Linked DNA regions of Homo sapiens: region 2 is linked to region 1. Evidence: fine-mapped expression QTL. A gene starts in region 1. The other region holds a variant in brackets. All regions are shown on one strand. Distances are between the middles of the regions. Region 1 holds the start of COX4I2 (cytochrome c oxidase subunit 4I2). Region 2 overlaps TPX2 (TPX2 microtubule nucleation factor).

Evidence for each region.
Region 2: its variant is fine-mapped to the expression of COX4I2 in tibial nerve (GTEx, PIP above 0.99).

The regions. Positions count from the first base shown.
Region 1 is chr20:31,629,334-31,645,321 of GRCh38, forward strand. It overlaps COX4I2 (cytochrome c oxidase subunit 4I2), which reads left to right and starts at 8,579. Exons shown (of 5, transcript NM_032609.3): 1 at 8,579-8,629; 2 at 9,685-9,766; 3 at 10,600-10,764; 4 at 14,071-14,202; 5 at 15,435-15,673. The coding sequence starts at 9,685. The coding sequence ends at 15,571. RefSeq lists silencers at 862-1,062, 8,500-8,639 and enhancers at 4,370-4,870, 4,871-5,371.
Region 2 is chr20:31,742,430-31,758,417 of GRCh38, forward strand. TPX2 (TPX2 microtubule nucleation factor) reads left to right here. Exons shown (of 18, transcript NM_012112.5): 2 at 112-218; 3 at 14,978-15,153. The coding sequence starts at 15,048. Among named protein-coding and RNA genes, the nearest start is that of TPX2, 11 kb to the left of the region's middle. The variant C/G (reference allele first, on the strand shown) is at 8,913.

The sequences.
Region 1 (15,988 bases):
CTTTTGGAGGCTGAGGCGGGTGGATCACCTGAGGTCAGAAGTTCAAGACCAGCCTGGCCAACATGGAGAAACACTGTCTCTACTAAAAATACAAAAAAGAAAAAAAAAAAAAAATTAGGCAGATGTGGTGGCATGTGCCTGTAATCCCAAATACTTGGGAGGCTGAGGCAGGAGAATCACTTGAACCCAGGAGGCAGAGGTTGCAGTGAACCGAGATCACACCACTTTACTCCAGCCTGGGCAAAACAGTGAAACTCTGTCTCAAAAAAACAAAACAAAACAAAAACAAAGCAATTGCACCAATAAAAATTAAGTAGTGAGTATCAGTGTAACAGCCAGATCCTACTTCATCCCCATGTAGAGGTGGAGGGACTGAGTGAACAGGCTTGGTGTGCAGAAGATGCAGGCCAGGCAAGCCTGTGCATAATTTTGGATAATGAAAAATACTATGAGGAAAATAAATCTAGCCAGGTGCAGTGACTCACGCCTGGAGGCCTAGCACTTTGGGAGGCCGAGGCAGGCAGGTAGCTTGAGTTCAGGAGTTCAAGACCAGCCTGGGCAACATGGCAAAACTTCATCTCTACAAGAAATACAAAAATTTTTGCCAGGGATGGTGGCACACACCTGTAGTCCCAGCTACTTGGAGGGCCTGAGGCAGGAAGATTGCTTGAATCCAGGAGGCTGAGGCTGCAGTGAGTCAAGATCCCACCATAGCACTCCAGTCTGGGTGACCATATGAGACCCTGTTTAAAAAAAAAAAAAGAAAAGAAATCTAAACTGCATAGGGGTCTTAGGGAAGGGCTCTCTGAGATGACATTTAAGCTGCAATTTGAAGGACAGTGGTTAGGGTTTGGATGTCAATACATAACAACTTCTTCTTTGCCCAAGTTCTGACACAACAGAGAGCAGATGAGGAATCAGGTATATTGAAATCAAAATAACACTTCCTTACTGTTCCATTCACTGTTCCTGCATGACAAACCACCTACAAACCACCTGGTGTTTAGTGTGCAAAATAACTGATGCTCATGGTTTCTGTGGGCCAGGAGGTCAGAGAGGGCACAGCAGGGATGACTTGTCTCTGCCCCATGAAGTCTGGGGCCTCAGCTGGAAAGACTCAATGGCTATGAGGTCCTTGATGGCTGGGGCTGGAATCATCTGGAGTTGTACATGTCTGGAAATGGATGCTGGCTGTAGGCTGGCACCTCAGCAGGGCCTTGAGCCAGCACATCTACACATGACTTCTCCATATGGTCTCTCCACCTGGGCTGGCTTGGCTCCCTCATAGCATGATGGCTGGGTTCCCAGGGAGAATGTCCTAACAGACCACGTGGCTTTTTTCTTCTTCTTTTTTTGAGATGGAGTTGTGTTCTGTTGCCCAGGCTGGAGTGCAGTGGCACAATCTCAGCTCACTGCAACCTCTGCCTCCCGGGTTCAAGTAATTCTCTGCCTCAGCCTCCCGAGTAGCTGGGATTACAGGCGCCTGTCACCATGCCTGGGTAATTTTTTTTTTTTTTTTTTTTTTTTTTTGAGACAGAGTCTCGCTTGTTACCCAGGCTGCAGTGCAGTGGTGCGATCTCAGCTCACTGCAACCTCCGCCTCCCGGGTTCAAGCGATTCTCCTGCCTCAGGTTCCTGAGTAGTTGGGGTTACAGGCGCCCACCACCACGCCCGGCTAATTTTTGTATTTTTAGCAGAGACAGGGTTTCATCATGTTGGTCAGCCTGGTCTCGAACTCCTGATCTCAGGTTATCCACCTGCCTCGGCCTCCCAAAGTGCTGGGATTACAGGCATGAGCCACGGCGTTGAGCCTATTTTTTTGTATTTTTAGCAGAGATGGGGTTTCACCATTTTGGCCAGGCTGGTCTTGAACTCCTGACCTCACAATCCACCCACCTCAGCCTCCCAAAGTGCTGGGATTACAGGCGTGAGCCACCCCACCCGGGCCCACATGGCATTTTTATGATCTAGAAGTCACATAGCAACTTTCACCATATTCTGCTGTTTAATGCTGTCACAAAGGTACATCCAGGCTGAAGGAAGGGGGACATAGATCCCACACTCAAGTGTCAAGGTCATAATTGTACAATGAGCATGTCGAATTGGAGATATTGATAGGCTATCTTCTTTGAAAATACAATTTGCCACAATTCCTGATAAACTAGTTTGTAAAGCATAGCTTTGGTCTGTGGGTGAGAGGCCGGGTGTATTGCTCCGGTAGAGCTCTCTCAGATGGAACAGGTGAGTGGGAATAAGACTTGCCCTTGAGAGAAGAGCATTTCAGCAGAGGGAAGAGCAATTACAAAGGCCCTGTCATGGGCAAGGTGGGTGTGTTCTAGGAACTGAAGCCCAGTGTGGCTGGGGCATGGTGGGAGAGCAAGAGAGGCTGATGAAGAAGCTGTATTTGGAAGGTTTGGTAGTGGGGACCTTGAACGTCAGGCTAAGGAGTTTATTGGGAAGCCAGCGGTGCCAAGAAAGGCTCAAGGATACCATGAGGCTGTCCCCACATAGGCTGTCCCCACATCTGGGGGCCAAATACCCATGCCCATGTGCAGGAGCCAATTGTGTCTCAGAGAAGACAGAGGCCCTGGCCTCCAGGATGTGAAGGCACTAGTGCCTACCCCTAGGGCTGATGTGACACCTGCACTCCCAGATCTCACCACCTCAGCCCCTTTGCCAGGTTGGACGCCTCCCTCAGCCCCACTCCTCTAGTGTGTCTGCCCTGGTAGGGAGGAGGAGACGGCAATGGTATGAAGAGATCTGACCTGCCCCAGGAAGTTTCCATCTCTAGGCCACCTGTCCTGTCCTGTCCCGGTGAAATCTAGCCAAGGGCATTCATCTACCCCGATCATGCTATGGGTTCTGCGGCAGGCCAGGAAACCTGCCATTAGTGGCCATCCACTCCTATGGCAGTCCCAGCTCAACGTCAGTTTGTTTTTTTGAGACAGGATCTTGCTCTGTCACCCAGGCTGGAATGTAGTGGTGCAATCACAGCTCACTGCAGCCTCGACCTCCCAGGTTCAAGCACTCCTCCCACCTCAGCCTCCTTAGTTGGGACTGCAGGTGTGCGCCACCACATCCTGCTAATTTTTTGATTTTTTTTTTTTTTTTTTTTTATATAGAGACAAGGTCTCACCATTTTGCCCAGGCTGGTCTTGAACTACTGATCTCAAGCAATCCTCCCACCTCAGCTTCCCAAAGTGCTAGGATTACAGGGGCGAGCCACCGTGCCCAGCCCTCAGTGTTGGTTCTGGCCTGGCGTGTCTGTCCACGGTTTTAGAAGCGCTTGCTGGACGGTCCACCAGAGCTGCGGGTCTTCCCGCGACGTCCTCCGAGCCTGAGCTGCTGCCGAGACACCCTCAGCGTTCGGTGATTCCCATAGCTCCGCAGAGCCTCCGCTCCCACAGGTGAGCTGGGTGGGCCTTGCTCTCCGCTCCTGGCCAGGGCCCTCGGCTCACTGACCTCGCCCATCGGCTCGCTGGCTCTGCCCCCTCGGCGCCCGGTTCCCTTGCTGTCGCCTGGCCCCGCTCCTTGTGGTTAGCTCTGCCCACTCTCGCCTCTCCCCGCTCCTCCTGTACTAGACCTCCTCCCTGGGTTCAAGGGGCTCCCGGGCCTCCTGAAGGGCTGGGGGTCTGGGTCTGTGACGCTTTGTCCAGCTCCTCTTCCTATTTTCACCTTAGGGTCCTGCGTGAGGCCTAGCTCTTCCACAGTATCCCCTCTGGGCTGGCAGGCCGGAGGTGGGTCCTGTGTGATACCTAGAGCCTGGCTGGTGGGGGGATGCTGAGGCCATGGCTCAGGTCTTTGCATCTGGGCAGAATCTGGGGGCTCCCTGGAGCTGATCAAGTGAGCGTGAGCTGCCATCCCTCCTGCTGGCAGGTCTCAGCCTATCCCAGAGCTCTCAGCATGTCGGGCCTGTCACGACAAGTGGCCTGAATGCCGTGTCCGGAGTCCCTTCCACCCTTGGACCCCCCGCGGTTCCAGGAGAAGACCCTTATTCCTCGGCTCTGGGACCCCGAGTGGCCTGCCTTAAGGGACAGTCCGTCTCTTCCCAGGTTCAGGACCTTGAAAGGAGGCTCCGCAGTTGTCCTGCAGGCTATATTCACCGTGAGCTACTCAGGGCCGGCCTCCACCCCATGGCCCTCAGTCCGGGGCTGGGCTTCCCCCACAGATGTTCCTTATCACAGCATCACTCAACTTCTGGAGCCTGATGTTCCCACAGAGGCGGGGGCGGAAGAGGGCAGGGAAGAACAGAGGATCGCCTTTCCCAAATGCCTTCCCTTGGAAGACCCTGTGAAACTGAGGAGATGGGGGAAACTGAGGCCCAGAAATGGTGCCGCTTGGCCAGAGTGGCTGTAGTAGAGCCATGCATAGACACAGGCCACTCACTCCAGTGCAGCCACCGCCCTCCCAGCCACCCTGAAAAAGGTCTGGCAAGACTCATGACCTTCCGCCTGGCGCAGTGGTTCACGCCTATAATCCCAGCTCTTTGGGAGACCAAGGCAGGAGGATCCCTTGAGCTCAGGAGTTCAAGACTAACCTGGGCAACATAACAAGACCCTGTCTCTACAAAGCTTAAAAAAAAAAAAAAAAAAAGACAAGGCATGCTCTCCTCCAGGTTCTTAAAGAAGGAGTGTCTTCCCCTGTCCTCTGTCCATAGGGCTGTTCTGTAGAACATCCTGCTCAGTGACCGAGGTAAGGGGTGGTCCTTTTTTTTTTTTTTTTTTTTTGGAAAGGGAGTCTCACTCTGTGGCCCAGGCTGCAGTGCAGTGGTGCGACTTCGGCTCACTGCAACCTCCGCCTCGCGGGTTCAAGCGATTCTCCTGCCTCAGCCTCCCAAGTAGCTGAGATTACAAGTGCCCCCCCCACCACGCCCAGCTAATTTTTGTCTTTTTACTAGAGACGGGGTTTCGCCATGTTGGCCAGGCTGGTCTCGAGCTCCTGACGTCAGATGATCCACCCGCCTTGGTCTCCCAAAGTTCTGGGAGTACAGGCATGAACCACGGTGCCTGGCCAAGGTGATCCTTTTGGGGGTCTCTCACGTTTGGAATTACCTTGGTTGGGGAAGGGGAGGAGCAGCTCCCAGAGTGACCAGCAGAGGGCGCTGGGCCCAACATGGTCAGTTCTGGGAGCTGGACTCTTGGAACTCGGGAAGACTCCCAAGCTGCCTTCTCAAAGTTTTGTCTCTGGCAGCGTCTAGAATGGAGGTGATGTGCACTCTAGGGTCCCTCTAACACCTTCCCTTGAGCCCCTCGCCTTCTAGGCTCATCTGCCCCCAGGACTAAGCCCCCTCCCTTTATTTATTTATTTATTTATTTATTTATTGAGACAGAGTCTCGCTGTGTCGCCCAGGCTGGAGTGCAGTGGTGCGATCTCGGGTCACTGCAACCTCCGCCTCAGCCTCCCTAGTAGCTGGTACTACAGGTATGTGCCACGACACTTGGCTAATTTTTGTATTTTTAGTAGAGACAGGTTTTCTTCATGTTGGCCAGGCTAATCTCGAACTTCTGACCTCCAGTGATCTGCCCACCTTGGCCCCCCAAAGTGCTGAGATTACAGGCATGAGCCACCATGCCTGGCCAGCCTTTAGAAACTGTCTTTAGCAGGCCCCTGTGGACTCACTAGGGTATAGGAACCCTGATGGAAGGCATGGGGGCTGGGCATACCCCATGGACCTAGAGCCAGGAGACCTGGAAAGCTCTGGTCTCCAGGCCACCGAGGGGACCCCCAGCCCTCTCCCATTCATCCACCATCCGTATACTAACAGTCCCGGGACACATTTACTGAACTTGTGCTCTGCTTCATTTGAACACATCACTCCTCTTCTTAACTTTGGTTGCCTCCCACCTTCATTTTATTTTATTTATTTATTTATTTATTGAGACAGGGTCTCATTCTGTTGCCCAGGTTGGAGTGCAGTGGTGCAATCTCAGTTTACTGCAACCTCCACCTCCTGCCTCAGCCTCCTGAGCACCTGGGACTACAGGGGTGTGCCACCATGCCAGCTTAATCACCTTCTTTAAATAAAATCCAAGCTCCTCACTACCGCCTACAGGTCCTTCTCGGTGGTCCAGCCCACCTCTCCCTCCATCCAGCCTCCCCTTTAACCATGACACTCTGGCCAAGATGACCTCTCTTCTTTTGTTATTGTTTTTGTTGTTGCTTTGAGATGGAGTTTCGCTCTTGTTGCCCAGGCTGGAGTGCAACGGTGGGATCTTGGCTCACTGCAACCTCCGCCTCCCAGATTCAAGCGATTCTCCTGCCTCAGCCTCCCGAGTAGCTGGGATTACAGATGTGCACCACCACACCTGGCCAATTTTTTTATTTTTAGTAGAGACGGGGTTTCACCATGTTGGCCAGGCTGGTCTCAAACTCCCGACCTCAGGTGATCCATTCGCCTCGGCCTCCCAAAGTGCTGGGATTATAGGCATGAGCCACCGCACCTGGCTGTCTCTTCTGTTCAGTTGTTTTTTTTTTTTTTTTTGAGACGGAGTCTCGTTCTGTCGCCCAGGCTGGAGTGCAATGGTGCAATCTTGGCTCACTGCAACCTCCACCTCCCGGGTTCAAGCGATTCTCCTGCCTCAGCCTCCCAAGTAGCTGGGACTACAGGTGCATGCCACCACGCCTGGCTAATTTTTTGTATTTTTGGTAGAGATGGGGTTTCACCGTGTTAGCCAGGCTGGTCTCGATCTCCTGATCTTGTGATCCACCTGCCTTGACCTCCCAAAGTGCTGGGATTACAGCGTGAGCCACTGCACCTGGCCTGTCTCTTCTGTTTTTTGAACATGCTGTGTTTTCCTGCCTCTGGGTCTTTGCACAGGCCTTTTCCTCTGCCTAGAACAGAATTGTAAGCCCTGTGGGGGCAGGAACTATGTCTGGTTTTTTTTGGCTCTATAGCCCCCAACATTTATCCTGGTAAACAAGTATGCAATAAATGCCAGCTGAAACAGGTCTTTATAAGTTTTTTTTAAGTTTTTTTTTTTTTTTTTTTTTTTTTGAGGAGTCTCACTCTACCACCCAGGCTGGAGTGCAGTGGTGCGATCTTGGCTCACTGCAACGTCTGCCTCCCAGGTTCAAGCGATTATCTAGCCTCAGCCTCCCGAGTAGCTGGAATTATAGGTGTCCCCTGCCACACTCGGCTAATTTTTGTATTTTTAGTAGAGACGGGATTTCACCACGTTGGCCAGGGTGGTCTCAAACTCTTGACGTTAGGTGATCTGCTCGCCTCCGCCTCCCAGAGTGCTGGGATTGCAGGCATGAGCCACCACGCCCAGTTTTATAAGTAATTCTTGAATAAATGTGCCTGAGCCTTGTCTATTTTTTTTTTTTTTTTTTTTGAGATGGAGTCTCGCTCTGTCACTAGGCTCGAGTGCAGTGGCATGATCTTGGCTCACCGCAACCTCTGCCTTGCGGGTTCAAGCCATTCTCCTGCCTCAGCCTCCTGAGTAGCTGGGACCACAGGCGCCTGCCACCATGCCTGGCTAATTTTGTTTGCATTTTTAGTAGAGACGGGGTTTCGCTGTGTTAGCCAGGATGGTCTCCATCTCCTGACCTCATGATCTGCCCCCCTTGGCCTCCCAAAGTGCTGGGAATTTTTTTTTTCTTTTTCTTTTTCTTTTTTTCTGAGACAGAGTCTTGTTCTGTTGCCCAGGCTGGAGTGCAGTGGCCCGATCTCGGCTCACTGCAACAGCCGCTTCCCAGGTTCAAGTGATTCTCCTGCCTCAGCCCTCTGTGAAGCTGGGACTATAGGTGCGCGCCACCACGCCCTGCTAACTTTTTTTTTTTTTTTTTTTTTTTTTGAGATGGAGTCTAGCTCTGCTGCCCAGGCTAGAGTGCAGTAGCCGGATCTCGACTCACCGCAACCTCCGCCTCCCGGGTTCAAGCGATTCTCCTGCCTCAGCCTCCTGAGTAGCTGGGATTACAGGTGCGTGCCACCACGCCCAGCTAATTTTTGTATTCTTAGTAAAGATGGGGTTTCACCATGTTGGCTAAGCTGTCTCAAACTCCTGACCTCGTGATTTGCCTGCCTTGGCCTCCCAAAGCGCTGAGATTACAGGCATGAGCCACCGCGCCCGCCCAATTTTTCTATTTTTAATAGAGAAGGTGTTTCGCCATGCTGGGCAGGCTGGTCTCAAACTCCTGACCTCAGGTGATCCTCCCGCCTCGGCCTCCCAAAGTGCTAGGATTACAGGCGTGAGCCACTGCTGGCCTAAAAGATGCTTCTGGAGTAGGAGGCATTGGGCCTGGCTGGAAGGTTTGCGTCTGCAAAGGCCTGAAGAGAACATCCCAGGTGGGAGAAACAGCAAGGAGGGGAGGTGTGGAGGAGGCAGGGAGACCCTGTTCTTGGGACTACTGTCTGCAGAGGGTCTCCAGAGGCAGGACCCCGGTAGGGACACTGATGCAGGAGGCGCTCTGCAGTGCCTCCCCCCAATCTGTGGGCCGGGGTGCCCCCAGGGACGCAGGCTGTGCGCTCCCACGCCCTGCCGAAGCAGGACGTTCCCACGCTGGGGCGGCCCCGAGAAAGGCTGTGGGGCGGGCCGGGGGCGGGCGCCCGCACTCAGGTCCCTCCGCAGCGGGTTCTCAGTTGCTCGCTGGGCAGACCCAGGTCGCGCTCCCACTGCCGAGCCCGCGAGGTGAGTGAGTTGGGGGAGGACCCCGCCACCCAAGCCCGCGCGGGTCAGGGGCGCGGCTCGGTCTCCTGCCTTCGCCGCTGGGTCACGCCCCAGTGGTCCCTGTCTTAGAGGGTTGGGGGGCTTCTTGTAGGTTAGAGTTGAAGACTCCTGGGGAGTCTGCATATGTGTGCCATCTCTTTCCCCAAATATAGATTACATCCTCCCTCTCTTGATATGTGGAGCTCTCCCACCCACTAATCATAATCACTGGCCGGAGCCCCTCTTTTCCAGAAGTGTGGGCCGCCCCCTCCCACTTATCACCTGTAGTGTGCCCCCTCCCTCACTCTATTTGTTGGGTGCCCCTCTCTCTCCCTAGATGTGGGACTCCCCTTCTTTTCCCCAGATGTGTGTCTCCCTCCCTCTGACCCAGTTAAGTCCCCATCCTCTAAAGCCCCTCCCCACCACCATGGATGCCAAACCCTGAGTCTTCCCTGGGGGTGGGAGACTGGGCTCAGCCAGACTGGCTAAGCCCAGTCCCCACCCCAACCAGATCCAGCAGAGCAGGCCTGTGTGCACGTAGGCAGCCAATTAGGGGGGAAGGGGTGGGGGCCAGACCGTCTGTCTGTTCTGCCGGTGCAGGGGCCTCTGGCCCCTGCAGGGAAGAGAGACTCAAGAACTGCTCCCTCTCCACCTGGACCCCACCCAGCTTCCTCTGGGGAGCAAACAAGTGAGCGGGGTTCTCCAATCTGGCCAGACTGAGCTGGGGCTGGCACCAGAACCCAAGCCCTCAGCCTCAAACTCTTCAGACCCTGGCCCAAGACTTAGGCCTCCTCCCACTTCTCAGATGGTGAATTGAGGTCCCAAAAAGGGGCTTCAAAGGTCTAGGACCCCCATTGGCCCCCCGCTGGGGATATCAGACAAAATTAGAAGGGTCAAGGGCATGAGGGTGACCTTGAAACACTGGGACACCCCTACCACTACCATACCAGTGGAAAAGGATTTTTCCATCTGGCCCTGCGGTTTGGGGGCAGAGGGTGATGTGGGGGCAGAACTCATCTATACCTTCACGCCCCCAGATGCTCCCCAGAGCTGCCTGGAGCTTGGTGCTGAGGAAAGGTGGAGGTGGAAGACGAGGGATGCACAGCTCAGAAGGCACCAGTGAGACCTGGACTCCTTCCTCCCTGCCTAACTCCAGAGATAGGGGCAGGGGTCCCCTCTGCAGGCTGCCCCCTTTGCCCTTCCATGCCACCCTGGGCCTGTTCCTACCACACTTCCCATGTTCCCATGATCCCACTCCTTGGTCCAAGGTCAAGTTTCTCCAGGAAATGGAGTGCGCGGGGTGAGCAGACAGTGGTCATCTCCATTCCAAGCTTCCTTAGGAGCCAGCCCCCAAGCCTCAGGCCCCTAGACCTTTTGTTCTGAGGTGGAGGATGCTGACAGAACCTTGGACCCTGATTCCTCCTTTCCAGACCCTAGTTTCAATGCTAGTAAGAAGAAAGAGACCTAAAGTAGGAGAGACTTCAGCCAGATAGCAGAAGGGCCTTGCTGACCCATGGAGAATAACAAAGATAACATTTATTGAGCCCTTACTAGTACCCCAAGCTATTATAAACCTCCTTTTTTTTTTTTTTTGAGATAGAGTCTTGCTCTGTCGCTCAGGCTAGAGTGTTCAGTGGCGCAATGTCGGCTCACTGCAACCTCCGCCTCCTGGGTTCAAACAATTCTCCTGACTCAGCCTCCCGAGTAGCTGGGATTATAGGTGCCCACCACTGCGCCCGGCTAATTTTTGTATTTTTAGTAGAGGAGAGGTTTTACTGTCTTGGCCAGGCTGGTCTCGAACTCCTGACCTCGTGATCCACCCGCCTCAGCCTCCCAAAATGCTAGGATTACAGGCATGAGCCACCAAGCCCGGCCACCTTCTTTATTAATATAGTTAGAGATAGGGTGTCCCAAGGGCAGCCTGGACTCAGCTCCCTCCATTGTGTCTGCAGCCCGTGGTGGGGGGAAGATGTCCCCCTACACCAACTGCTATGCCCAGCGCTACTACCCCATGCCAGAAGAGCCCTTCTGCACAGAACTCAACGCTGAGGAGCAGGCCCTGAAGGAGAAGGAGAAGGGAAGCTGGACCCAGCTGACCCACGCCGAAAAGGTGGCCTGTAAGTGTCAGGGTGGGGCTGGCTGGAGAGAGTGGGTTGGGGGCTGACTTTGGAAAGAATGGCCTGTCAGGGATCAGAGGGCAGAGAGAGGCCCCCAAGACAGCCAGAAACCTCCAAACACCTGAGGGGTGAAGTTCATGCCTTTGTTCGTTTCTTTATTCACTCACCTGTTTGTGCATAGCCTGATGCTAGGCAATGCTGGGGACATGAGGTGAATCACCTGGATAGTTCCTGCCCCCATGGTGCCCCCGGTCCCGTGGGGAAAACCAATACAGACTCCAATAATTGTAATACAGAACATGTGGCTAGGGTGAGGTGTGTTCAAGGACTGTGAGATGAAATCTTGGTGGACCTCCCAGAGGAGGGCACATTCCAGCTGGCCTTTAAGGGTGAAGAGGAGGGCACTGCCAGGGAGTGGGAACTGCATGGGGAAGGGTGTCAGAGCAGGAGACTGTGGAGGGCCCTGGAATTGAGTGATGTGGGGGAGATGGGACAGAGAGAGGCAGGTGAGGCGGTTGGGGAGGAGCCCTCTGACCCTGGGAGGCTGGAGGGATGTGTGGTCCCTTGTCATGTCCACCAGAGCATCCCTGAGCTGACCCTTTGAAATTTGGAGCACCTTATTTTCATTCCATGAATGGGAACACTCAGCCTGACCTCCAAGATTTCAAGGGATTCCTAGTGGGGAAAGGTTCATGCTTCTCACATTCATTCATTCAGTCAACATCTTATTTGGCACCTACTACAATACCATGCACTGGGAATGCAGCTGTGAGCCAGCCAGGCTCCGTTCCTGCCTGTGAGCTTGCATTTCCAGCCCTCTCTCAGCACCTTTACCCCTTCTCTCTCTCTCTCTTTCTACACACACACACACACACACACACACACACACACACACACATCTTGGTTTTTTCTTCATCCATTTCAGAAATTGACACTCTTGGGGGGAGAGGGGAGGAATAGCATTAGGAGATATACCTAATTCTAAATGATGAGTTAATGGGTGTAGCACACCAACATGGCACATGTATACATATGTAACAAACCACATGTACCCTAAAACTTAAAGTATAATAATAATAAAATTTAAAAAAAAAAGAGAAATTGACACTCTTTATCTGAGCATGGTGGCACATGCCTGTCGTCCCAGCTATTTGGGAGGCTGAGGCAGGAGGATCACTTGAGCCCAGGGGAGCTGAGGCTAGAGTGAGCTGTGATTGTGCTACGGCATTGCACTCCAGCCTGGGTAACAAAGTGAGACCCTGTCTGAAAAAAAAAAAAAAAAAGAGAGAGAGAGAAAGAAATGATGGACATTCCCCAAGCAAGATGATAATGAGCACCATCCCTAATATGTCCTGCACGCTTACATGTAGCAGGCACCGCTGTGGCGTTAGGTTGCTCTCGTTAGCTCACATTTGAGAGACTGAGGCTCAGTGGCGTGCAGTCACTTACAGTGGTTGCACAGCTAGAGAGTGGTGGAGGCAAGATTTGAAACCACATAGACAGGCACCAGGGGTTTCACCCTTAGCTGCTACACCACATTAGCTACAATGAAGGTTTGGTGGGATGCTTGGGGAGTTTCAGTGTAACCTCACAGCTCAAACAACTTTTTTTTTTTCCTTTTCTTTGAGACAGGGTCTCTGTCACCCAGGCTGGAGTGCAGTGGCCCCATCTCGGCTCACTGAAATCTCTGCCTCCTGGGCTCAAGCGATCCTCCCACTTTGGCCTCCTGAGTAGCTGGGACTACAGGCGGGCGCCACCACACCTGGCTATTTTTTTTTTTGTATTTTTTTTGTAGAGACAGGGTTTCACCATGTTGGCCAGACTGGTCTCGAACTCCTGATCTCATGATCCACCCACCTCAGCCTCCCAAAGTGCTGGGATTACAGGGGTGAGCTACCATGCCCGGCTATTTATTTATTTATTTATATTTCTGTAGAGACAGAGCAGTCTCACTATGGTTGCTCAGGCTGGTCTTGAACTCCTGGGCTCAAGCAATTCTCCTGCCTCGGCCTCCCAAAGCACTGGGATTACAGGCATGAGCCATCATGCCAGGCCAAATGCCTTGAGTCTTGTCAGACCTCTTCCAGGGCAGGCAGGCGTGGCAGCACTGGAGTGCATGGCCTGTGTCTATGCATGGCTCTACCACAGCCACACTGAGTGGCCTCCACTGGTTGATTTCATTGTCTCAGCCTGAACCGCCCACCCAAGTATCTTCCCAAAACCTAAGACAGTTCCCTTTTCCCAAGGAATTCTGCTGCCAGCTTTGATTTTCCTTTAGATATTTATTTTCATATTTATTTAATGTACTGAGAAAGGATTACACACGTAGGGTAATTTTTTTTTTTTTTTTTTTTTTTTTTGAGACAGAGTCTCGCTCTGTCGCCTAGGCTGGAGTGCAGTGGCATGATCTCGGCTCACTGCAACCTCCGCCTCCCGGGTTCACGCCATTCTCCTGCCTCAGCCTCTCGAGTAGCTGGGACTACAGGTGCCCGCCACCACTCCTGGCTAATTTTTGTATTTTTAGTAGAGACGGGGTTTCACTGTGTTAGCCAGGATGGTCTCGATCTCCTGACCTCGTGATCCACCACCTCGGCCTCCCAAAGTGCTGGGATTACAGGCGTGAGCCACTGCGCCCGGACTTACCTGGCTAATTTTTAAATTTTTTCTAGAGACAGGGTCTCGCTTTATTGCCTAGGATGGTCTTGAACTCTTGGACTGAAGCAATCCACCCGTCTTGGTCTCCCAAAATTCTAGGATTACAGGCATGAGCCACCAAGCCTGGCCCCCTCCCTAATTCTGTTAGAATGAAATCCAAACTCTTCTCCATGGATTCTAACAAGGTCCTGTGTGAACCGGCTCTGCCTCTCATTTGAGAGAGCCAGCCTCTCATTTGCTAAATTCTCTCTCTTTTGCTCATTTCACTCCAGCTACAGTGGTCCTCACTTCACACTTTCCCTACCCACTTCCTGCTTCAGGGTTTTTGCACTTCCTTCCAGTTTTCACCAACTTTCTCCCATTGATTTTTCAAACCTCAGCTCCAATGTCACCTCCTCTGAGACACCTTCCCTGGCCAGCCAACTGTTTGCCTGAAGCATTTGCCATTGTCTCCCCCTCTAAACTCCACAAGGGCAGGGATTTTCATCTGGCTCATTCACTGCTGTCACCTGTTCCTGGTCATGCTGTGCATATAGTACGTGCTCAGTAAGAATTTGCTGAATGAACAGCATCTGCTGCAGGGAGGGGGAAGCCGGGATCACTTAGAGTGGACGCACCTGAGGCCCCTTCCCCACACCCAACTGCCTCCAGTGTACCGGCTCCAGTTCAATGAGACCTTTGCGGAGATGAACCGTCGCTCCAATGAGTGGAAGACAGTGATGGGTTGTGTCTTCTTCTTCATTGGATTCGCAGCTCTGGTGATTTGGTGGCAGCGGGTCTACGGTGAGTGGCAACACCTCATCTGGCTGCAGTCCTGGGCCATGCCCTTGTGGTCACGGCCACCAGACAGTTTCTTAAAGGAACCATGCTGGCACTCATCTGAAGAGCTGAAAATTTCTGAAGAGGTGTAGGGTGAAGGACAGAGCATGGCTGTCTAGGTTTGAATGCAGGAACTTTACCTCTCTGGGCCTCAGTTTCGTCATCTCTAAAATGGGAATAGTAATGTTCCATCTCAGGGTACTTAAGAGGATTTTAATGAGAGAGGGCTGTAGGCCAGTGTTTGGCTCATAGTCATGAATGGTGTTGTAACTGATTGTTGTGTATGAACTGTGTGTTTTTCAGTGTATATATATACTGAACTTCTGCCTCCCCAGTTCAAATGATTCCCCTGCCTCAGCCTCCCGAGTAGCTGGGACTACAAGAGTGTGCCACCACGCCCGGCTAATTTTTGTATTTTTAGTAGAGACAGGGTTTCGCCATGTTGGCCAGGCTGGTCTCAAACTCCTGACCTCAAGTGATCCGCCTGCCTCGTCCTCCCAAAGTGCTGGGATTACAGGCATGAGCCACTGTGCCCGGTGGCCTGTCCCCATATTTTTAAAGTGAACACTCTTACCTACTTCCTACTTTCAACCCTCTTAGAAAGTAAAAGGAATTATTTCATCCTGGACCCTGCCCAGCAAGTGGGAACAAACTCAGTAATTATATAATTATAGTAGGTAACATGTATCAGGTGCTTAATATTTGTCTAACATTGTGCCAACAGCTTTGGAAATACTCAGTCCCCACAATCCTAGTGGATAGGACCTCTTTTGACAGGTAAGGAAACTGAGGCTCAGAGAGATGAAGTGACTTGTTGAAGGTCGCAGGGCAAGGGAGTGGTAGAGCCAGGATTTGGATTCAGGCAGTCTTCAAATCAGTGATCTTATTACCACAGACCACAGAGGTAGGTGAGGTGACTGAGTTGTGAAGGACCTTGGCCCAGCTCCCACAGTCCTTGGGGTCTAAGGCAAAGCTGGGGTCAGAACCCAGAGGTGCCTGGGACGATGCTCTAGGAGAAAGTCTGGGGTGCGGGGCTAGACAGGGTGGAGTGAGCTCCTCAGTGCAAGATACTTCAACCCTGGAGTATCTTGTACCGTCAGCCTTGCGAGTGGCTGGGAGGCTACAGGGTGGCTGGAGACCCTGGCTGGTGTAGGAAGACTGGCAGGATCCTGATCCACCCCATGTACTCCCTGCAGTATTTCCTCCAAAGCCGATCACCTTGACGGACGAGCGGAAAGCCCAGCAGCTGCAGCGCATGCTGGACATGAAGGTGAATCCTGTGCAGGGCCTGGCCTCCCGCTGGGACTATGAGAAGAAGCAGTGGAAGAAGTGACTTGCATCCCCAGCTGTCTCCCTGAGGCTCCGCCCTGGCTGGGAGCCTCTGGCGGCCCCTCCCCTCCCCTGCCCTTAACCCCAGTAAAGCTCCAAAAAAAAATTTATTCTCTTCTGCCTCTCACCACCACTTCAGACTTTACTTGGCACCTAAAATTAGGCATTTTAACAGGTGAGGGGCAAGAAGGGCTCAGAACTCATCTAGTCAATGAGGGCTTCCTGGAGGAGTGGGGGCTACAGCCAAGGCTTAGGTGGGATTAGGAAAGGCAAGAAGAAGGGAAGGCATTCGGGGTGGAGCAAGTGGCTTAATCAAAGGTGAGAACACTCTTTTATTCAGCTAATTAACAAATACTTGGCCGGGTGCGATGGCTCACTCCTGTAACCCCAGCACTTTGGGAGGCCAAGGAGGGCGGATCAC
Region 2 (15,988 bases), 110 kb after region 1:
GGCCTCCCAAAGTGCTGGGATTATAGGCGTGAGCCACTGCTCCCGGCCTGTTAACCCTTTTTTACTACAGAGAACTTGGAACCTGTTTCATCACTTTTCTGCTTCTTCCAGGTTCTTGATACATATTTGCCAGACTTCAAGATTTCAGAAAAGGGGTGAAAGAGAAGATTGCAACTTTGAGTCAGACCTGTAGGCCTGATAGACTGATTAAACCACAGGTAAGGCAGTGACCATAGGAATAAGGAACATTAATATATCAGCTTCATAAGTGTTTAAATGACTAATGTAATTTTATAAAGTAACACATATTTTGGAAGGAAATTTATTTATTATGAAAAGCAAAAAGAAAATAAAATCACCCACTATCCCACCTCTCAGATAAACCATGGTTAGCCTTTTGATAGATTTCTTTATAATTTTTTTCTATGTCTATATAGTCATTCCTTGATATCCATGGGGAATTGGTTCTAAGACCTTCCCAGGATATCAAAATTCTCATATGCGGCCGGTTACTGTGGCTTATGTCTGTAATCCCAGCACTTTGGGAGGCTGAGGCAGGCGGATCACCTGAGGTCAAGAGTTTGAAACCGGCTGGCCAACATGGCAAAACCCCATCTCTACTAAAAATACAAAAATTAGCTGGGTGTGGTGGTGCGCATCTGTAATCTCAGCTACTTGGGAGACTGAGGCAGGAGAATCCCTTGAACCCGGGAGGCAGAGGCTGCAAGTGAGCCAAGATCTCATCACTGCACTCCAGCCAGCAAGACTCTGTCTCAAAACAAACAAAACAAAATTCTCAGATGCTCAAGCCCTGGTATAAAATGATGTGTAGTATTTGCATATAGCTTATGTACATACTCCCACATACTTTAAATTATCTCTAGATTACTTATAATACTTAATACAATGTAAATGCTATGTAAATAGTTGTTATACTGTATTGTTTAGGGAATAATGACAAGAAAAAAAGTCTAGGCTGGGTACAGTGGCTCAGGCCTGTAATCCCACCACTTTGGGAGACTTAAATAGGAGGATTGCTTGAGGCCAGGAGTTCGCGACCAGCCTGGGCAACATAGTGGCACCGTGTCTCTACAAAAAAAATAAAACATAAAAAAATTTAACCGGGCGTGGTGGCACCTACTTGTAGTCCCAGCTACTTGGGGGGCCAAGGTGAAGGGTCACTTAAGCCAAGGAGTTTGAGGTTACGGTGAGCTGAGGGCACCACTGCACTCCAACCTGGGTGGCAGAAAGAGACCCTGTCTCAAAAAAAGTCTGTACATATGCAGTACAGATGCAGTTTTTTTTTTTTTTTTTGAGGCAGAGTTTCGCTCTTGTTGCCCAGGCTGGAGTGCAATGGTGCAATCTCAGCTTACCGTAACCTCCGCCTCCCAGGTTCAGGCGATTCTCCTGTCTCAGCCTCCCGAGTAGCTGGGACTACAGGCATGCCACACCTGGCTAATTTTGTATTTTTAACAGAGATGGGGTTTCTCCATGTTGGTCAGGCTGGTCTCGAACTCCTGACTTCAGGTGATCTGCCCGCCTCTGCCTCCCAAAGTGCTAGGATTACAGGCGTGAGCCACCGTGCCTGGCCTTGCAGTTTTTTTTCCCCCAAATATTTTTGATCTGCAGTTGATTGAATCCACAGATATGGAACTCATAGATACGGACAGCCAACTGTATTTCATTTTTAAAAAAATCATACACTAAAAACTTTTGTTAATTTTTTTAACTTTTTTTTTTTTTTTTTTTTGAGTCGGAGTCTCACTCTGTCGCCCGGGTTGGAGTGCAATGGCGCGATCTCTGGCTCAATGCAACCTCCGCCTCCCAGGTTCAAGCAATTCTCCTGCCTCAGCCTCCCGAGTAGCTGGGATTACAGGCACCCGCAACCACACCCGGCTATTTTTGTGTTTTTAGTAGAGACGGTTTCACCATATTGGCCAGGCTGGTCTCAAACTCCTGACCTCATGATCTGCCCACCTCGGCCTCCCAAAGTGCTGGGATTGAGGCTTGAGCCACCACGCCCGGCCTCTAATTTTTTTAACTTAATAATCAGGCTATGAATATTTTCCCGTGTCATTAATAAATTTTCTTCTCTTTTCTTTTTTGTTTTTTTTGAGACAGGGTCTTGCTCTGTCACCCAGGCTGGAGTGTGCACTTCAGTGGCGTGATCACAGCTCACTGCAGCCTCCATCTCCTGGGCTCAAGTGATCTTCCTGCCTTAGCCTCTCGAGTTGCTGAAACTACAGGTGCATGCCACTGTACCTGGCCAAATTTTTCTACAACATAATTTTAATGGCTATATGGTATTCCATTATTTGGTTCTTTATATTACTTTTACCAGTGAAATTGCTGGTCTAAAAGAATGCGTATTTTTGGCCGGGCGCGGTGGCTCACGCCTGTAATCCCAGCACTCTGAGGAGGCTGAGGCGGGCAGATCACCTGAGGTCAGGAGTTCAAGACCAGCCTGGCTAACATGGTGAAACCCTGTCTCTACTAAAAATACACAAATTAGCCAGGCATGATGACGGGTGCCTGTAATCCCACTTACTCGGGAGGCTGAGGTGGAAGAATCACTTGAACCTGGGAGGTGGAGGTTGCAGTGAGCCGAGATCGCGCCATTGCACTACTGCAGCCTAGGCAACAGCGAGACTCCATCTCAAAAAACAAACAAACAAAACATATTTTTAAAAACTTTTGACATGTAACACCAAATTGCCTTGTAGGAAGATTATGCTGATTTACCTAAAACAGTATATATTCACATAGGCATAAATGTATAACTTAAAATAGGTAATATATTTGCATGGTGCAAAAATCAAAAGAATATAAAAAGCTTCATGGTTTAAAATCTTCCTCCAGCCTTGTTACTTCTTCACTCTCACCATCCATAGGTAAACACTTTTTTTTTTTTTTTTTTGGAGACAGAGTCTCACTCTGTCAACCAGGCTGGAATACAGTGGCACAATCTCAGCTTACTGCAACCTCTGCCTCCCTGGTTCAAGTGATTCTCCTGCCTCAGCCTCCCGAGTAGCTAGGATTACAGGCACGCCACCACACCTGGCTAATTTTTGTATTTTTATTAGAGATGGGGTTTTGCCATATTGGCCAGGCTGGTCTTGAACTCCTGACCTCAGGTGATCCACCTGCCTTGGCCTCCCAGAGTGCTGGGATTACAGGCATGAGCCATCTAATAAACACTTTTATTAGGTTCTTGGGTTTGAGTGTTTGTGTGTTATTCCCCAAACCAGATACCTTTTGAAGGGAATAAATCTCTATAAAATGAAATGACTGCTATTTGACTAGGATTGTAATCTGCAGCCACACTGTCAACCATTACAAACTTTTTCAGCTTCATACTATTGGAATATCAGATTACTTTGGGTTTCTACTAAGATTTCCTTTTAGTATTTTACAAAGCTCTCTGTCATTATCTGTCCTAGTAGTAAACAGCATCATTGATTTCCATCTAGGTCCTATTAGTCATAGGTGGATTATGGTTTGTTGAGTTCTATGGATAAATTATAGCAAAACTGAGTTTGTAATCCTTAAAAAAGGGCAATATGAAACATACAAGTTTGGGAGAGAAATGATAGGAAATATATTTGCTTGAAGTTTCTGGACAGTGATGAATTAGAACAAGTGTCCATGTGTCCTGTGCTGACTTCTGAGTGTTGGACAGTGAGGGATTGTCATTGGATTTTAAATTGACCCAATTTTGGAAGCTTCATAGATCTGTTTCTGTAAACAGATCCAATTTCAACATAGAAGTTAGCAAACATAAATGTGGAAACACAAAGTCCATTAAACTTCCTTCAGACTTAGTTTGTGACTTTGATTAACAGTTAAAATTGCATGCTGGATTATGTTGCCATTTACTGACTGCTGCTAATCCCTTATATACAAGAAAAAAATGTAGGTGTTTTCTCTCTGGGTAAGATGAAAGTAACTCCACTCTATTTTACTTGTGGTAATGTAACAGGATCTCTTATCCCTTGTGAAAGTAGGAGAGGATGTCCCTGGAGAAATGGCACTGCCTGGGATGGGACCATCTTAACTAACTATACTTCTAATGAAGTCTTGTCTTACTCTGTTTATTCTATTATATTACCAGTTTAACTCATGACTTTCTCTTTAATAGAAATAGGCAAGTCATATCTCACTGACTGGATAGCAAGGTGTTTGAGAGCATCTGTCACACCAAAGTCTTTGTTTTGCTCAGGAGCTGGTAGTCCCCTATTTCACCCTGCTTAGAATGCACCCTCTTGCAGCTTTCCCCAACCCGGTCTGAACCTGCACCTTTTGATTTATAGAGCTTGTCAAGACTAGTTATTTTTGGTTTGAGAGTGAAGAAAGATGGGAGGCAATGGGAGGTTAATTTCAGATGAATGTGGGAACAGGTTACATTGCTTTGTCTGCAATCTTCCTAATTTGTATTTGTCTTCCCCTTCCATTTATCTCTTACCCTAGAAAAAGTCAACGTTCATTCTTAGCTTGTAGAACTCCGCAGGTCTGTCTGTATCTTTTAAGTATTTTTTACATCAGGAAACCATCTCTGATCCTCTTTTATGCTGTTCTCCTTCTCTGCACTTCCAGAGCGCTCTCTGTTAATGCCCTCTTGCAGCAAGGATAGCCCTATATTGTAATTGTTTGCATTCCCCCATTCAATTGTGCGTTCTTGGAGGGAAGAGATTTTTTTTTGTTGTTGTTGTTTGAGAAGGAGTCTCGCTCTGTCCCAGGCTGGAGTGCAGCGGTGCAATCTCGGCTCACTGCAGCCTCCACCTCCTGGGTTCAAGCTATTTTCCTGCCTCAGCCTCCCGAGTAGCTGGGATTAAAGGCACGTACCCACCACGCCCGCTAATTTTTGTATTTTTAGTAGAGACGGGTTTCACCATGTTGGCCTGGCTGATCTCGAACTCCTGACTTCGTGATCCGCCTGCCTTGGCCTCCCAAAGTACTGGGATTACAGGCATAAGTCACTGTGCCCGGCCGAGATTTTATATCTCTATCTCTGTCTGTCTGTCTGTCTGTCTGTCTATCTATCTATCTATCTATCGTTTTAGTCTTCGCTTTTTGGAAACAAAAATGGGCTATAAGACACGATGGATGGCATTGAATAGGCAGTTTTTAGAGGAACCTAATTGGTTCATAGCATACAGGATAGGCTTTTTCCTTGGGTCTTTGTAGGAATATTGGTCATTAATAGCTATTTTTCCATGCAGAATATTTCTAGTTTTGCAAGAATCTGAAGCTGTGGTAGATTCAGATAATTTTGAAATGTGAAGCTGATTCTCTTGCTTGGCAACTTGATTTGTTTGGGGGAATGTGGTTGACGCATGTGCCTTTTTTTTTTTTTTTTTTTTGGTGAGACCTGTTGACAGAAATTCAATCTTGATTAAGGGACGCAGGAAGGCATCCAGTTCCCACCATGCCTGGGGCTCTCTCATTTAAACAGCTGCCTTTGGCTCTGGCCTGTTCCATTTCCCACTAGGCCCTGTGGACTTTAATTTTGGAAGATTTCACATCCTCATATTTATTATTTCTGGGGGAGGTAGTGTCGTGAAACCGAAATTACCCAGTAGTTAGCTTTTCGTTTTCTTGATGTACTTGTCCTATCAGCCTTAATTGAAGAGAGTCAGACTTCTCAATGGATATGTATTTATTTATTCTCTTTTTCCAGGGAGAGGGGATGGTCTCCTGAGTTGGCCATTCTAGACCAAAATATAGCTTAAAAGAAGCTTTTTTAAAGAACAGGTCATGTTAGGAAAATAATATTTTGTTTTTAAAATTTCACCTAAAGATTAAGTGTACTTAGGTTTGCACCCCTCGCCGTTTGTTCCCCACTAATCAAATGTAGTCTTAGACCTCAGAGGACAGCCTTTCTTCTGCTGCTTGAACCCTCTTCATAGTCTCTTTACTCTAGAATATCACTGAGGTTTTCACTAACCACCATCTTATATAGAGGAAAAACTTCATATGGAAAAGTATACTTAAAAAAAGAGGAATCAATGGATTTTTTAAAAAATTTATGGGAAGATTCAGATCAGAGCTTTCCAAATATATTTATAACAGGATTTGTAATTTGCTAAAGTTTTCTTTATGAGCATATCAGGGATGCTTAGTTTTCATAAAGGGCAGGATTTGTCTTTGTTGAACAGGATCTTATGATTTGATTACCTACCTCCTTTTTGAAGCAATGTTTATAGGAAAACTTGTGCATTAGAGAGACCCCAGATTTTGGAATCCTGCAGACTTGTTCTTTTAAAACTCAACACTGCTATGTATTAGTTTGGTGATCTTGGAATAGTGTAACTTCTCTGAGCTTGTTTCCTTGTTTATAAAATGGTGATGGTAGCATTTATTTATAAAGACATCTATCTATTGTCTATATTGTTAATGCAGTTTAAACGAGATGATTTATGTGAAGTGTCTGGTAAGGTGCCTGGCCTACAGTAGACAGTATTTGGAAGTTATTATCTCTTGCTCCATGACATTTGTTATTTATCTATTTAAATGTGAATTTTTTTTTTTTTTTTTGAGACAGAGTCTTGCTTTGTTGCCCAGGCTGGAGTGCAGTGGCGCGATCTCGGCTCACTGCAACCTCCGCCTCCTGGGTTCACGCCATTCTCCTGCCTCAGCCTCCCGAGTAGCTGGGACTACAGGCATCCACCACCACGCCTGGCTAATTTTTTTGTATTTTTAGTAGAGACGGGGTTTCACTGTGTTAGCCAGGATGGTCTCAATCTCTTGACCTCATGATCCACCCGCCTCGGCCTCCCAAAGTGCTGGGATTACAGGCGTGAGCCACCGCGCCCAGCTTAAATGTCTATTTTTAAATAAATAGGCAGTGGATAAGAACACCACCTTCGGTGTCTATTCCATTTGGAATCCTGGCTTTACTGCTTCTTAGCTGCATGACTGTGAATAAGTAGTAAATCTCTCTGTGCCTCAAGTCCCTCAGTATAGAATGAAGATAATAACAGTACCTACTTTATAGGATTATTGTGAGGATTTAGTGAGTTAATACATGTAAGACACTGTCAACAGTGTCTGGCATGTCATAAGTGCTCATTAAGTAATAGCTGTTGGCCGGGCACGGTGGCTTACGCTAGTAATCCCAGCAGTTTGGGAGGCTGAGGCGGGTGGATCACTTGAGGTCAGGAGTTCAAGACCAGCCTGGCCAACATGGTGAAACCCCGTCTACTAAAAATACAAAAAATTAGTTGGGCATGGTGGCAGGTGCCTGTAATCCCAGCTACTCAGGAGGCTGAGGCAGGAGAATCACATGAACCCGTGAGCCAGAGGTTGCAGTGAGCCAAGATTGTGCCACTGCATTCCAGCCTGGGCGACAAGAGTGAAACTCTGTCTCAAAAAAAAAGAAAAAAGTTAATAGCTGTTTTTATTTTTAACTTTTTCAAATTTATATACCCTTTTATTAAGTCAATGCCCCAGGAATCATTTTTAGTTCTATATAGAAATCTTATTATTTGTTTATTTTTAATTTTTTAAATTAATTATTATTATATTTTTGAGATGGAGTCTTACTCTGTTGCCAGGCTGGAGTGCAGTGGCACGATCTTGGCTCACTGGAACCTCCTCCTCCCGGGTTCAAGCTATTCTCCTGCCTCTGCCTCCCGAGTAGCTGGGACTACAGGCGCATGCCACGATGCCCAGCTAATTTTGTGTTTTTAGTAGAGACAGGGTTTCACCATGTTGGCCAGGATGGTCTCGATTTCTTTTTTTTTTTTGAGACGGAGTTTCGCTCTTGTTGCCCCGGCTGGAGTGCGATGGTGCGATCTTGGCTCACTGCAACCTCCACCCCCCAGGTTCAAGCAATTCTCCTGCCTCAGTCTCCCAAGTAGCTGGGATTACAGGCATGCACCACCACACCTGGCTAATTTTATATTTTTAGTAGAGACAGGGTTTCTCCATTTTGAGGCTGGTCTCGAACTCCTGACCTCAGGCGATCCGCCCGCCTTGGCCTCCCAAAGTGCTGGGATTACAGGTGTGAGCCACCGTGCCCGGCTATTTATTTATTTATTTATTTATTTATTTATTTATTTATTTATGAGACGGAGTCTCACACTGGAGTGCAGTGGCATGATCTCGGCTCACTGCAACCTCTGCCTCCTGCATTCAAGCGATTCTCCTGCCTCAGCCTCCCGAGTAGCTGGGATTACAGGCATGTGCCACCAAACTCAGCTAATTTTTGTATTTTTAGTAGAAAGATGGGGTTTCACCATGTTGGCCAGGTTGGTAGTTCTATATAGAAATATTAGAAAGAGAATATGTAACATTTGGGTAAGTTAATAGTCAATTTATAGGCCACGTAAATGGGAAGGATTATTTCCTTAAATCAAGAGATTAGACAATCATTGCTTGTCATGAATATTTAATAAAAATTTGAGAAAGCTCAGTTTCTTTTGGGCTGCAAACATAGATCTAGGGAAATAAATACTGCTTAACTATTTTGTTGTTGTTGTTGTTGTTGTCTTTTAAGAGACAGAGTCTCACTCTGTTGCCCACGTTAGAGTGCAGTGGTGCAATCGTGGGTCACTGTGGCCTCAAACTCCTGGACTCAAATGATCCTCCCACCTCAGCCTCCTGATTAGCTGGGACTACAGGCACACACCACCATGCCCAGCTACTTAGGAGGGGTTGAGGAGGGAGGATCCTTTGGGCCCAGGAGTTCGAGTCTAGCCTGAGCAACAGGCTAGATTCTTTAAAAAACAGAGATGAAAAAGAAAGAAAAAAAGGATGTGAAGGGTTAAATTTGAACACTTTCCAGGTAGTTTTCAGCATCATGCTTTGGTGGAATCATGGTTTTGAGGCTAAGTGGGGTTGCTGCATGTTACATTCCTGCCTCTTCCTTCCCCCAGCTTTAGTCGTCTTCATTACATTCATGCCTGGGAAGC[C/G]TTCCCAGTGACCTGAGTTAGGCATTAAGATCATGGGAATCCAAGATTTTCCCATGTCTTCTAGCATATTTGTTCACAAGAAAAGGAAAATTTCCTCCTTGCAGCAAGGGGTTTTTAACCACTGTCAGTACCATGGAATCTTTCACTAAAAATCCTTTGAATAGAAATGTGGTCAAGGAGAGGAAAGGTATCAGCAGTGATAATACCTTACAATAGTGTATTTCATAGCACTTGAAGTAGCTTCTTATTTGATTATGGTAAGAAGGTAGGCAGAGAATTAGTGACTTGCCTATTGTCATATACATGTGGTAAATGCCAGAGAGGGCATTCTGGACTTCTGTTAGTTGGAATTGCTTTTGACTACAGGTGACAGAAAATGTGGCTATAATGGTTTATACAATAATTATTATTATTTTCTGAGATGAAGTCTCACTCTTGTCACCCAGGCTGGAGTGCAATGGCGCAATCTCAGCTCACTGCAACCTTCGCCTCCTGGGTTCAAGTGATTCTCCTGCCTCAGCCTCCCGAGTAGCTGGGATTACAGGCACCTGCCACCACACCTGGCTAATTTTTATATTTTTATTAGAGACAGGGTTTCACCATGTTGGTGAGGCTGGTCTCGAACTCCTGACCTCAGGTGATCCGCCTGCCTTGGCCTTCCAAAGTGTTGGGATTACAGGTGTGAGCTACCGTGCCTGGCCTATTTTTTTTTAGTATAAGAAGTCTTTTTAGCAGGTCATGGAAAATTGTAAAAAACACCAGAAGTCTAGAGGTATATAGTAGCTGATATTTGATCTTTAATAGTCATTAGCTCATTGATGTTAAGCCCTATGTTTATTGTTCTCTTGGCCATCTACTCATGTATACCAGATGACTGCCATAGCTCCAGCTTGCCTTCAAGGCAAGAAGAAGGATAAAGGGAAAGGGCAGGAATAAGGGCTATAGCTGTTTTCAGGAAAGAAAATTTTTTCCTAGGAATCCCTCAGCAGATTCTTACTTAGTTCTCATTGGCCAGAACTGTCCCATGGCTACCCCAAGCTTGGAAAGTGGCTATCAGGAGGTAACTTCCATTTTAATGTACTTGCTACTGTTTTGGTCATGGTCAATGAAAAATATTTAATCGTACCTTGACTTCAGCCATGTTAATTTCTAATTCTCTATACTTAGAGTTCATACTGTATAATTTAAACAAACTGTCTTATTTATTGTGTATGATAGGACCTTAGCGTCTATGTAGATGTTAAGTTCCTTTGTGTTCAGGACTACATCTACTTTTTTTTCTTTTTTTTTGAGACGGAGTCTCGCACTGTTGCCCAGGCTGGATGCGGTGGCGTGATCTCGGCTCACTGCAAGCTCTGCCTCCCGGGTTCACACCATTCTCCTGCCTTAGCCTCCTGAGTAGCTAGGACTATAGGTGACCGCCACCATGCCTGGCTAATTCTTTTTGTATTTTTAGTAGAGACGGGGTTTCACCATGTTAGCCAGGATGGTCTCAATCTCCTCACCCTGTGATCCACCTGTCTCGGCCTCCCAAAGTGCTGAGGTTACAGGTGCGAGCCACTGAGCCTGGCCGCTTAGATCTACTTTTTGTGTGAAGATATAGAGTGTCATCCTTGAATGTTACTGAGAAACATTCAAGGGCACACAGCTTATGGCCCCTAGCAAGTACACACTATTGTGAACCACTGACAAAAAGCTTATTGAGTTAAGCTTAATAATGAAAGTAGAAATGGAGGAGAGAGGAAAATTTAGACTGGGGATACCAAAGAACCCCTATTCCAGACAGAAGACTATGGAGAATGGATTTACTTGGAAATAAATACAGTATTCTTTTCTATGCAAATAGCTTAACTTCATGAACACCCTTCTTTAATTCACAAGGTAAGAGGGCAGAAGGATGTAGAAAGAACATTGTGCTGAAGTCACGAGCCTCAGGTCCAGATCTGGCTCTGTTTTTACGTAACTGTGTGATACTGGGCAAGTCATTTAATCTTTCTGATCTTCAGCTTCTAGGTTGGGAATAATTGCTGCTTTACAGGATTGTTTTGCATATCAGAAAGAATACATATTTAGTATATCATGGCACCTGGCATGTAATGAACACCTCTGGTAACTGTTTTTACCATGATCCTTAGGATTTTTGTTGTGTGATCTTGGAGAACCCCTTTTTGCTTTAAGTTAATATCTTATAGACTGCAAAGGTTAGGTGTTAATCAAAGTTTCCTCCCAATTCTAAAATATCATGTTTCTACACTAAGTACCTCAATTAGAGCATTGTTATAAAGATACTTGTGGAATTCTGGCTGCAGTGAGCATAGGAGAGACCATGGGAAGATGATGTTCTCTGGGGTCTAGATTGATGTCACTGTATAAATGAAATATTTGTTATAACAGATGTTTCTGGCCGGGTGCGGTTGCTCATGCCTGTAATCCCAGCACTTTGGGTGGCCGAGGCAGGCAGATCACCTGAGGTCAGGAGTTCAAGACCAGCCTGGCCAACATGGTGAAACCCCATCTCTACTAAAAATAGAAAAATTAGCCAGGCGTGGTGGCGCACGCTTGTAACCCCAGCTACTTGGGAGGCTGAGGGAAGAGAATCGCTTGAACCCAGGAGGTGGAGGTTGCAGTGAACCAAGATCATGCCACTGCACTCCAGCCTGGGCGACAGAGCAAGACACCATCTCAAACAAAACAAAACAAAAACAACAACAATAACAGATGTTTCTGAGACACTATAAGGACCAGAAGTACATTATTTTTATTTATTTTATTTTTTGAGACAGAGTCTCGCTCTGTCTCCCAGGCTGGAGTGCAGTGGTGCGGTCTTGGCTCACTGCAGCCTCCCGGGTTGAAGTGATTCTCACCGAGTAGCTGGAACTACAGGTGCAGCCACCACCCCAGGCTAATTTTTGTATTTTCAGTAGAGATGGAGTTTCACCATGTTGGCCAGGCTGTTCTCGAATTCCTGACCTCAAGTGATCCTCCCGCCGCGTCCTCCCAAAGTGCTGGGATTACAGGCATGAGCCACCACTCTCAGCCCCTAGTCCATTTTGAATTGCCCTAGTCCACTGAGAGAAGCTGTGAAATGCTGGCCAAACCACTGAACGGCTATGTAGGTTGGGAGTAACTAATCTCATGATTCATCTCAGTGGATAGCTTATGTGGTATAGTTTAGAGAAAATGAGTGCTGCAGTGCCCAGAGTTGGGGAGAGTTTGGGGAACTGGCACACTCCTGGTAATGTAAGTGGGTGTTTTTTTCTTCTGAGGGACATTTTCACAGTATGTGTCAAGAGCTTTTGACCCAGCAGTTCCACCTCTTAAGATTTATCTTAAGGGAAGAATTATGGATGTGTACAGAAATTTAGCTACAAGGATGATGCTTTAGCAGTATCTTTAAAGTGAAAATATTGGAAAAAGGCTGAAAATCAAGGATAAGTAATTATGGAACAGATACAGCCATTAATTGATATGTCTATATTTATTGACATACAAGAATATTCATAATATGTGAAGCAGATTCAAACTGTCAATGATTCATTTAAAAAAATAATAGTTTGTATATATATGAGGGAGAAGACATCTGGAATAGTGTAGCATTATAGGTTTATTTATTTATTTATTTTTGAGCCGGAGTCTCGCTCTTGTCACCCAGGCTGGAGTAGAGTGGCGTGATCTTGGCTCACTGCAACCTCCGCTGCCTGCGTTCAAGGGATTCTTATGCCTCAGCCTCCTGAGTAGCTGGGATTACAGGTGCCCACCACTGCGCCTGGCTAATTTTTTGTATTTTTAGTAGAGACAGGGTTTCACCATTTTAGCCATGATGGTTTTGATCTCCTGACCTCGTGATCCACCCGCCTTGGCCTCCCAAAGTGCTGGGATTACAGGCGTGAGCCACCGTGCCCGGCCGCTTTTTTGTATTTTTAGTAGAGATGGGGTTTCACCATGTTGGCCAGGCTGGTCTCAAACTCCTGACCTCAGGTGATCCATCCGCCCTGGCCTCTCAAAGTGCTGGGATTACAGGCATGAGCCACTGCGCCACACTAGAAAGGTATTAATTTAAATAAACATTTATTCAAGTGATTACTGGCATCTACCTCCCTTCTAAGATACAGATACTTTTAAGTACATGTCGTTCCCTGGATAAAAACAAATGGCTGGCCGGGCGCGGTGGCTCACACTTGGGAGGCCGAGGTGGGTGGATCACTTGAGGTCAGGAGTTTGAGACCAGCCTGGCCAACATGGTGAAATCCCGTCTCTACTGAAAACAAAAAATTAGCAAGGTGTGGCTGTGGGCGCCTGTAATTCCAGCTACTAGAGACTGAGGCAGGAGAATTGCTTGAACCCGGAAGGCAGAGGTTGTGGTGAGCTGGGATCATGCCACTGCACTCCAGCCTGGGGGACAGAGTGAGACTCCGTCTCAAAAAAAAAAAAAAGACAAATGGCTCATTGGGTTTCATTGGCAAATTATTGGCCACTGAGTGTGGCCTTTAGGCTATTTATCAGATTACTTTCAGCTATTTTATTAACTAGATTAGGCTTGAGTAGGAGCTGACTTTAAACCTTCACAGGTTTCCACAAGATAGAGTGCAAAACTTCGTACGCAGGAGTAGGGAGGGGCCTATTTAACTTGTTCCCTTATCCTTGCTTCTGTTCCTATGCTGCATGTTGTGACTCTTACGTGTATTTCAAAGTTGTCGTCTTTATACTCAGAAATAGTATTTTTTGAGAATATTTCTAAGAAAAGACAACTTATATTTGACAAAACTGTGTTGAACTCTTACTATGTATAATGCACTGTGTTAAGCACCTTGATGGTTGGATGGATGGATGGATGGATGAGGTATACACAAGTGAGTAAAATCTATCTTTGTTTTTAGGAACTTCGAGTCTACTGGGAGAGACATTTACATAGTTAATATAAAATTGGATGATAAGTGTTACAGTGGAGATATAAACAAAGCACAATTGGCTTTGGAGAGGCAACAATTTTGTATGATAGGTGGAAATTGGGAAAGAGTTCATAGAGATTTGACCTGGACTTTGAATGATGGATAAGATTTTGGTTGGTAGGCATAAAAATTAGTGGTGTATTTTAGAAATTGGGTTATTCAGGGCAGAGAGAGAATAAATTGGGCTAGAGGAGGCTAGAAATGAGAAAATGGTAAATTGAGGGAAAATAATGACATGGTGAATGTAAAACACCTAGCACAGTGTAGATACTTATCAAACTTTGCCTCTTTTAAAAAACATTTAGAAAATTTATTTATTTATTTTATTTTTATTTATTATTATTTTTTTTGAGACAGAGTTTTGCTCTTCTTGCCCAGGCTGGAATGCAATGGCGCGATCTCGACTCACTGCAACTTTCACCTCCCAGGTTCAAGCGATTCTCCTGCCTCACCCTCCCGAGTAGCTAGAATTACAGGCGCCTGCCACCATGCCCAGCTAATTTTTTGTATTTTTTAAGTACAGAAGAGGTTTTGCCATGTTGGTCGGGCTGATCTTGAACTCCTGACCTCAGGTGATCCACCCGCCTCAGCCTCTCGAAGTGCTGGGATTACAGGCGTGAGCCACTGCTCCTGGCCTAAAATTTATTTTTAATTTCAATTTTTTCTTTTTGGTTTTTCTTTATATTTGCTGATTACTTAAAGATAATTTTTATTTTTTTAGAGATAGGGTCAACTACTTACAGATAATTTTTATCTTTTTAGAGACAGGGTCAACTGTTATACTTAGAGATAATTTTAATTTATTTAGAGACAGGGTCTGTCTATGTTTTGTAGGCTGGACTTGGACTCCTGGTCTCATGTGGTCCTCCCTCCTCCCAAAATGCTGGGATTACAGACGTGAGCCACTGTGTCTGGCCCACTTCTTTCTAATTCCAAACATATCTACCTCAAGGAGTATCTTTAAGTTACCTGAAAAACTAATGTTTAGGTTGATTGGACAAAGTAAGGCTATTTTCAGTAAATTCTAGGTGGTTTGCAAAATTACAAACGTGGTAGTAAAACCAAAGTAATGATGGGAATTTACTTAGATTTATGTGCAACCATTTCTTTCCTCAGAAGGTGACCTGCTGAGAAAAGTGGTACAAATACTGGGAAAAACCTGCTCTTCTGCGTTAAGTGGGAGACAATGTCACAAGTTAAAAGCTCTTATTCCTATGATGCCCCCTCGGATTTCATCAATTTTTCATCCTTGGATGATGAAGGAGATACTCAAAACATAGATTCATGGTTTGGTAAGTGCCTGCTTTCTCTGGCTATTTTAAGGATTAGTGGCTTGCTTTGTGCTGAAGACCTTTCAATAATAGAAGGGGTTGCAAGAAAAGAACTAAAATATCAACTTCTTTCTGCACCAAGACATTCTGTCATCCATGATATTATGGGAATAATTGAAATGCCCAGTATTTGGGGAATGGATTGTAAGTACAAAGCATATGTTGTTTTGTAGTTCAGAATGGCAGATTTAAGCTTTAGGGACCTATGGGAAAGTTCAGATGAACCAGTGTTCAACAAAACTCCATGCTCAAATATGTCTGTAGTGATGGCAGCCACATAAAAACTTTGTCTACTATCATTAGGGATAGATTATATCACAGCTAGGATATTGACATTCATACAATCTACCAGTTTTACTCAGATTTCTCCAGTTTTACTTGTATGTGTATTAAGTTCTCTGTGGTTTTATCACCTGTGTTGGTTTATGTGTCTACCATCACAGTCAAGATCTTTTATAATTACCCTCACCTCCCTCCTGCCACCCCTCCCTCAATTCATTTTTTTTTTTTTTTTTTTTGAGGCTGTAGTCTCGCTCTGTTGCCCAGGCTGGAGTGCAGTGGTACAATCTCAGCTCACTGTAACCTCCGCCACTCTTGTTCAAGCGGTTCTGCCTCAGCCGCCCAAGTAGCTGGGATTACAGGCGCCCACCAGCATGCCTAACTAATTTTTGTATTTTTAGTAGAGACAGTGTTTTGCCATGTTGGCCAGGCTAGTCTTGAACCCCTGACCTCAGGTGATCCACCCACCTCAGCCTCCCAAAGTGCTGGGATTACAGGCGTGAGCCACTGCGCCTGG